Linked DNA regions of Homo sapiens. Changing the gene in region 1 together with any one later gene gives a genetic interaction. Each region holds a gene or a part of one and is shown on either strand. Other genes may lie near its edges. The genes, in order: TOP1 and ROR1.

Region 1 (3,828 bases):
AATAACACTATCAATAAATAACAGTGCATAGGTATGTAACACAGTTTTATGATGTGCTTTCACACACATTTCATTTGGCCCTGGTGAACCTACCCAGATGAGACTGCAGGAAGCCAGAAGTATGTAAGACATTAGATTTTACAACTTGTTTCAGGATATACAGAAACTACATTCCCTTCTCATAACCAAGAGAGGTGAGGAAGTAGAAGACATCTGCAGAGGCCAATATACAATCACCATACTTCAACACATTCTGACCACTGGACGTTAAGCAATATGAAGGCAGGGCCTACGTCTATCTTGTTTACCAACATAATTCCTAGCATCAAATGTATACTGTGTGGGGCACATTTGGGATTTCAGTAAATATTTGTGAATTAATAAATAAGATTACAATGTGACCAAAAAAATGGAGGCACTGTAGGAAGATCACCATAATGCTAACTATGAAAGTACTTGCCTTCTTTCAATGGGGAGGATTTTTAATTTGTCAAAGTGATTCTAGAGGACGAGAACGTTACATTTCAACAAAAAAAGGTTATCAGCACCATGAACCAGTGCAGCTCTCAACTATCCCCTTACCTTGATTCGTGAACTAGGGTTAAGCATGATGTATTTAATGGAACCTTGGATGTTCTCTGTCCAGGAAACCAGCCAAGTAACCTTGTTATCATGCCGGACTTCTTTCCACTTATGTCCTGGAGGAGGAGAAGGAACCTTGGCATCTCTGGAAATAACAGAGCACGAGGATAGTGAAATAAGATGTGAGGAATAATTTCACCTTTCATGACCCCAAGTGGACCTATCTGCTGAGCATAATTTTCCAAGTTTCCTTCTTAACAGTCAATACAGTAGTCCCACCTTATGCATGGTTTTACTTACCCTCAGCCAACTGTCATCCGAAAATATTCAATACAAAATTCCAGAAATAAACATTTTGTAAGTTTTAAATTGCACATCATTCTGAGGAGCATGATGAAATCTCTTGTAGTCCCACCTGGGATGCGTGAACCATATATACAACATACCATGCTGTATATGTCACTTGCCCATGGGTAACCTAGTAGCTGCCTTATTTATCAGGTTGACTTTAATGGTTTTACATTGCTTGTGTTCAAGTAATCCTTCTTTTACTTAATAAAGGCCCCAAAGTGTGAAAGTGGTGATGTTGGCAATTTGGATATGCCATACAGAAGCTGCACAGAGTGCTTTAAATGAAAAGGTGGAAATTATCGACTTAATAAAAAAAACTGTATGGTGAAGTTGCTAAGATCTAAGGTAAGAATTAACCTTCCATCTGTGAAATTGTGAAGAAGGAAAAAGAAAGTCGTGCTAGTTTTGCTGTTGTGCCTCAGACTGCAAAAGTTATAGCCACTCTATGTGATAAGTACTTAATAAACATGGAAAAGACATTAAATTTGGGGGTGGAAGACATCAACAGAAATGTGTTCCAAGTGACAGCAATTGGGTCGAAGTTGCAGGCATCCACTGGGGGTCTTGGAACATATCCCCTGTGGATGAGGGGAGACAACTGTACCTCAAAAACATCTGGAGACCTACGCATGAAATACTGTCCTGCTCTTAAGTATCTCCCTTCCCAAACAGTCCTGTGTAACCTGGGAAATATTCCCAAGTACAATAAAGGACGCCCTCCACCCCCTTTTTGGCCCATAGGATGAAGTGCGAGCTCACTTGCTACAGTTGATGATTATATCCTCGGGCATGATTCGTCTCTTCAGCATGCCCATCTTGGGGTGGTTGCCGCGGCCACGGAAAAGTCCAGGAGGCTCTATCTTGAAGTTAGCAATCCTCTCTTTGTGGTTATCCATAATACAGAATCCATATTCTTTCAGTAATTTTTCATTCTCCTCTTTGATTTTCTGGAAGACAGCAAGAAAGTACTCAAAATAGATTCAGATTGCTGTTCTCTACTAATGCATTTTATCTCTTGTGGGAGACTAAGTCAAGGTAGAGGAAAGTCTGAAAAATCACTAAAAAATAAATTCAAATAAAGGAAAACCTCTAGTGGTTTTCTCAAACTTAAATATCATAAAATTCCCCAAAAAGATCTGCCTATAAGGATTGATTTCAACTAGATTCAAAACTGATTCTTGTGTCTTAAAGGATATATGTTTGTAAATGTTATTTGGGTGTTTTTAAATGTACTTTAAAAATTCATACTGTTTTACTGAGTACTATCAAAACAGGAAATGGAGAAGAGTCTCTGATAGAGCCTCATAAAAGAATAGCTCAAGCCATTTAATTAAACAGCAGTTAAACAGCTTAAAAACGTGGGTTTTTAAGCTCAGACAGATCTGTCACTAATTTTTTTGTAGGTATACAGGTATATACACTCTATACTATGATCCTTGCTCCAAAAAGGTGAGGGATGGTGGGGGAGATTTTGAGCCTCCTTACCCTCTATTGACTCTGCGTTTTATATACTTATTGATTCAGTTTAACTAAGTTGTGCTGCCTTGTGGGTGGGAACAGATTCAGACCTTGCTGGCAGCAGGTGTCCTTGGCAGAGGCTCTGACAAGGGGATGTTTATAAAATCTATCTTTGGATCAATATTCTAAGAACAAAGCTCCAAAGTGATCTTTTAAGTTTCAAAATGCCCCTGAAGTAAATAATATACTAAATTTCACTAACTTGGAATATTGAGGATAAGATTTACCTGAGACACAAAGTCTGATGCAATTAACATTCTTATAGTAATGCATTAATTTTTAAACTAGTGACCAAATAAGTACCATGAAACAATGAGTTATATCAATACAATGGTCTGAATTACGTAAACACGCAAGTCCTTTAAAATACTGAAACTACAGGAATTTGAAGTGCAAAGAATTCCTTAAAATCCTTAACTTCTGGACTTCCGATTGGTAAAAATGAAATTCTAGCCTGGATTCCTTTAGTTCAGGGGCTGACAACTTTTTCTAGATAGAAAATATTTTAGGCTTGAGTGCCACACAGTCTCTTTTGCAACTACTCTCTTTTGCAACTACTCATCTCTGTCATTGTTGCATAAACACAGCCGTAGATAATATGTAGACAAGTAGAGGCAGCTGGTTCCAATAAATTTTTTTTTTTTTTTTTTACAAAAACAGGCAGCCTGTAGAAGAAAAATGACATCCCAGCTGGATACCAGAAAGATCCTTCAGTAATGAGGATGGCCAAGGCTGGAAGATGGAGATGGATGAGCATCACAAGATTCCAGAGTAAAATAGATCAAAGAGCAGGGAGGTACATGGCCAATATGATTTCATCTGTCTTAAATCCTTAATATCCAGTAGCCACTGTGGGACAGGTCTGCCCATCCTTAATTACTATATTATTGGCTGGAGTTACTGACTGGTTTTTAGGTCACTGAAGCACCAAGATTCCTGTACAGAGCTACTGAGCAAAGTACTTGTTCACAATTTTCAGTCTAACTAAAACCTTTAAGAAAATTTAGACTTTGAGAACTCTAAGTCTTTAGCATAGAATGATGTGAAATTACTGATGTTAATGTTGTGTCATAAGAACCAAGAAGAAAGTTAAATGAACCAATCACAATTCCAGAATTCTCCAGAGGTTTAATAAATTCTGTAGTACCAGTTTCTCTTCCTTGCTCATCTGTTTCCGAGCTTCCGTCTGGGCTTTGAAATACTGGCTCATCTGGGTAAAATCACATTTGCTTAGGTTGGTGATAATATTCTTCTCTTCATTAGTCATTTCCTAGTCAAAAGAAAATGGGGAGATGAAAGAAAAACAACGAAAATACACTAATAAGTCCTTGGGTTTCTTTGCAAATACACCCAAGCACCATTTTTTCAGTCAAAGGT
Region 2 (3,828 bases), on another chromosome or scaffold:
GACCCATTGAGGGCTGAGATTTGGTACCATGAGACCCATGGAGAGTTGGAATATCTCCCTAAACCAAGGTGGGCCGTGGACACACATATACCCACAGGGTTGTGCTCTTCCCCTAACTTCAGCCAAGACTGTCTGGTTAATGGGCCTAAGCTTTAGCCATGGGTGCTGGCTGATGTTCTTTCTGGTTTCCCTCCAGAGGCCAGGCACCTCACCTGATCTGCTCTATAAAATATCTATCTAAAAACAACATGAGGGTTGCAGGGCACCTTGAAATCAGTGTAGTAGATGACCCAAGCAGTGTGTTTCCAGAGAGAACAAAAGAAATGTAAATAGATCTTTGTGTTTACTGAACAAAGGAGCCTTGCCACAAACAGGGAATTTGGTTTTAACTTTTCACTGACGAAGAAGAAGTTTCAAATTTGTTGGCCATCTGTAGCTGCTTACTTAGTAAGCAGAACGAGAACACCTGGGCATCCCAGCAAAGGTGTCCAGTCCAGAGGGAATTCACACTAGACTCAAGTAGCAGTTCTGCCACTCTCTAGCGATGTGTGTCAGACCATCACTTCACCTCCCTGGGCTTTGGATTCATAATCTGGGCCTTTGGGGTTGGGTCTGCTTCTTCTGAGACAGTTTGTGTTTCTATATGGGCAGCTGCAGAACAACTGGATGACAGGCAGCAGGTGTCCAGTGAGCTTGAATGCCAGACAAAGCAATCTGGCTTTTATGTGTAAACCTGGCTGTTTGTACCTTTTTCAATGGTTTGATTCAGTAGCTCTGATGATATGTGCTTGAGCTATGGAAGATTTCTCATCTTTTTTTCCCTTCTTCCCTAGACTGCAAATGTCAAGATGGCAGATGGTAAGTGGGAGGTAGGGTATAGTCTGGCTTAAGGGAAAAGTTCCAGTCCCACTGAATCCACCTCTAGCTCTGTGTCCCTGAACAAATGATGCCTTCCAGTGCTAATACTAGTAATAATGATGATGATGACACTGACAACAATAATGATTTCATAATGATGGTGGTAATACCTAACACCTAAATGGTATTTATCATCATGACAGTTATTGTTATGAACATTTTACACATGGAAAACAGAGAGGGTAAGGCACAGAGAGGGTAAGAAAGTTGTCCAAGATCACACAGACAGTAAGTAGAAGTGAGATTTTAAACAAATTATTTTGGCTCCAGAGTCCATGCTGTAGGATAGAAGTTCTCAAATTCTTTGGTCTCAGGACTCCTAGATAATCCTTAAAATATTGATGCCACTGAGGGGAGAAAGTTTTAAAATATTTGTTTATTAACCTATTTAAAAATAAAAACAATCCCATTGCTTAACATAAATATTTTAATAAAATATTTAGTAAAATAATATTTTCCACACGCGTATACCAAAAATAGTGAGAAAAGTGGCATTTTTTTTTTATTATTGAATATCTATTATTGTCTTAAAACCAGACAGCTGAAGCCTCCTGTTTCAGCATTCAATCTGTTGAGGTATGTTGTTTTAGTTGAAGAAAATCTGGCTTCGCACAGTTGGAAAAGGGAAGGGTTTTTAATAGTCTTTCAGATAATTTAGGATATTCTTCTTTGATACTACACCAAAATTCGATAGGTGGTAGTTTCTTAAACGTTGGTTGCAATGTGAAATCTGAAATCATATCAATAAACTTTTCATAATCTATTAAATTATAATGGATTGATTTATCTTGTACTTTGAATGGTTATTCTACCTACATACGATTTTGTAACATCATGCATTGCCTGTTTAGAGAACACTGGTTTACTGAGTTACGTTCGTTTTCAAAATGTGGACACCCTTACTTATCTAATATAGAAAATTCAAATGCATTAATATCACCACCAGTGCCATCAGTTATGATTGGGAAGAAGTTGTCAAGCTCGTGATGGTGGCTAAAAGTTTCGCAAAATTCTAACTTTTTCTGGAAAGTTCAAATTTTATTATTGGCAATTAATACTACTGTTTCCTTCAAGCGGCAGGTTCATTTTCCTCATTTTAAAGAATATTCAAGAATAACTAACCATAATTTTTCTGTCGGTCATTCTTTAAAGTAAAAGTGGCTAGTTCAGCTCAGAACTCAAATGCTTTTCTTTGAGACAGTCATAGTACTTGGCAGGAGTACTTTACGTATACTGCCCATCTGCCATATGAAATATTAAAAATCTATGTATTCAAGGGTCAAGATTTAATACAATTAATAATTTTTACTGCTCCATGGAAGATATTCTTAAGTGCAATTGGCTTTTTTTTTCTTTTCAACTACAAGTATATGGCAGTGGAATGTACAGTGACCACTAGTTTGGTACCGTTGGTGCCATTGTCTGAATTTGTTTGAGCAGTTTCACCCACCATTGCTTTTGCACAATTAGGATGGGTAAACCGCAGTTCAGAGGACTTAACAGCCTATCCCAGAGTTCACAGCTAATAAAAGGCAAAGCCAGGATTTGGACACCAAGCCCAGCGCTGTTTCCATCACACTCCATAGCTGCCCTTTCCCAGCCCTCAGGGTCCTAGACTGGTGTAAGGCTTTCAGAACAAAATGGGTTAGCTCAGGCCCTGAACGGTATGAGTCAGAGAGCAGAGTGGCTTGGATGGCATGTTTTCTATTTCCGAACAAGCAGTTTGGGGCTTTGGGGCAATCCCAAGCGATTGTGTCAGATCTGGGCAAAAGTTTAGGACTCTGAATTAAAAAGGATTTGTTACCTTTACAATGTAGGAAAATGAAATGCCAGTATCCTTTTAGTGCCACCATCTTCTCCCATTAACAATGGAAAGTGATGATCATAGCTAACATTTTTCTGAGCATTTACAAAATGCCAGGCACTATTCTGAGCATCTTACACACTTTAATTTAAACTTGACAACAATCCTATGAGGTAGACTCTAAAACTGACCACATTTTAGAGATAAGGAAACTGAGACACAGAGAAGTTAAGGAATTTCCCAAAGTCACACAGCCAGAAAGCGGCAGAGCCAGGACCCAAACCCACGCCTTTGAACAGCAGAGACCATATTATGTTCTGATGCAATCAGATTCCCAATCAATCCAACCTGTAGTCTTTCATTGTCCTTTGCACCACTCATAACCTGAACTAAAAAATATTCTTGCCTTTTTATGAGTCCATCAAGCATGTGACAATACCCACTGGTACTGAAAACAACTAAATCACCACTAGTTGCTTATGACGTAACTGGAAGTCATCATTGAGAATGAGCTTTTTAAATACAGTGCAGGCATGGTCTGTACTGAGGCTTAATGAACCAGAAAAAGCAAACTGCAAGAAAAAAGTTATTTTATGACCTCTCTGGGAATTGAGACTCTATTTCCTCCTTTTTACATTTTTTGTATTCCCCTCAGCACTTCATGTGTTATTGTGAACTTCATAGGCATTTAATAAACGCTGGTTGATGAAGTAAATGGAAGGCTCAAGTGAATTTTAGGCAAATTAGCTTTGGAGACACCCCATTTATTATTTACCCACTTGACAAGATGTCACATCCACAAATCCACAAATCCTTCCCAACATTTATTACTTAATTTTCAAAGTGCCCCCATCTCTCCTCAGGGAGGAAGGTGGGGCCAAGTGTTATATTCCCATTTTGACAGGTGAGAGAAACTGAGATATAAAGAGTTGAGCAGTCCATTGCCATGGCAACCCAGCCAGTCAGCCGAGGAGCCAGTCACAATTAGGTTTAGGGCCTGGGTCTTGGTATCAAAAGAGGCACATGCCAAAATCCTAGCCTCCCACATGACTGATGCTTTTCAGAAGAGGGAGGAGGTTCCCAACATGAAATGAAATGCTTAGCTA

What was found.
Region 2: changes in TOP1 (region 1) and ROR1 together harm fitness more than expected from each alone (negative genetic interaction), as found in Homo sapiens cells (one large-scale study listed by BioGRID).

Annotation. Positions count from the first base shown.
Region 1 is NC_000020.11:41,098,108-41,101,935, reverse strand, and holds part of TOP1 (DNA topoisomerase 1), read right to left. Parts: exon of another isoform or gene 3,722-3,828; coding exon 3,599-3,721; exon of another isoform or gene 3,112-3,598; intron 1,881-3,111; coding exon 1,693-1,880; intron 1,279-1,692; exon of another isoform or gene 1,144-1,278; intron 765-1,143; exon of another isoform or gene 728-764; coding exon 583-727; intron 1-582. UniProt on the Homo sapiens protein: Releases the supercoiling and torsional tension of DNA introduced during the DNA replication and transcription by transiently cleaving and rejoining one strand of the DNA duplex.
Region 2 is NC_000001.11:64,042,926-64,046,753, reverse strand, and holds part of ROR1 (inactive tyrosine-protein kinase transmembrane receptor ROR1 isoform 1 precursor), read right to left. Parts: intron 1-3,828. UniProt on the Homo sapiens protein: Has very low kinase activity in vitro and is unlikely to function as a tyrosine kinase in vivo. Receptor for ligand WNT5A which activate downstream NFkB signaling pathway and may result in the inhibition of WNT3A-mediated signaling.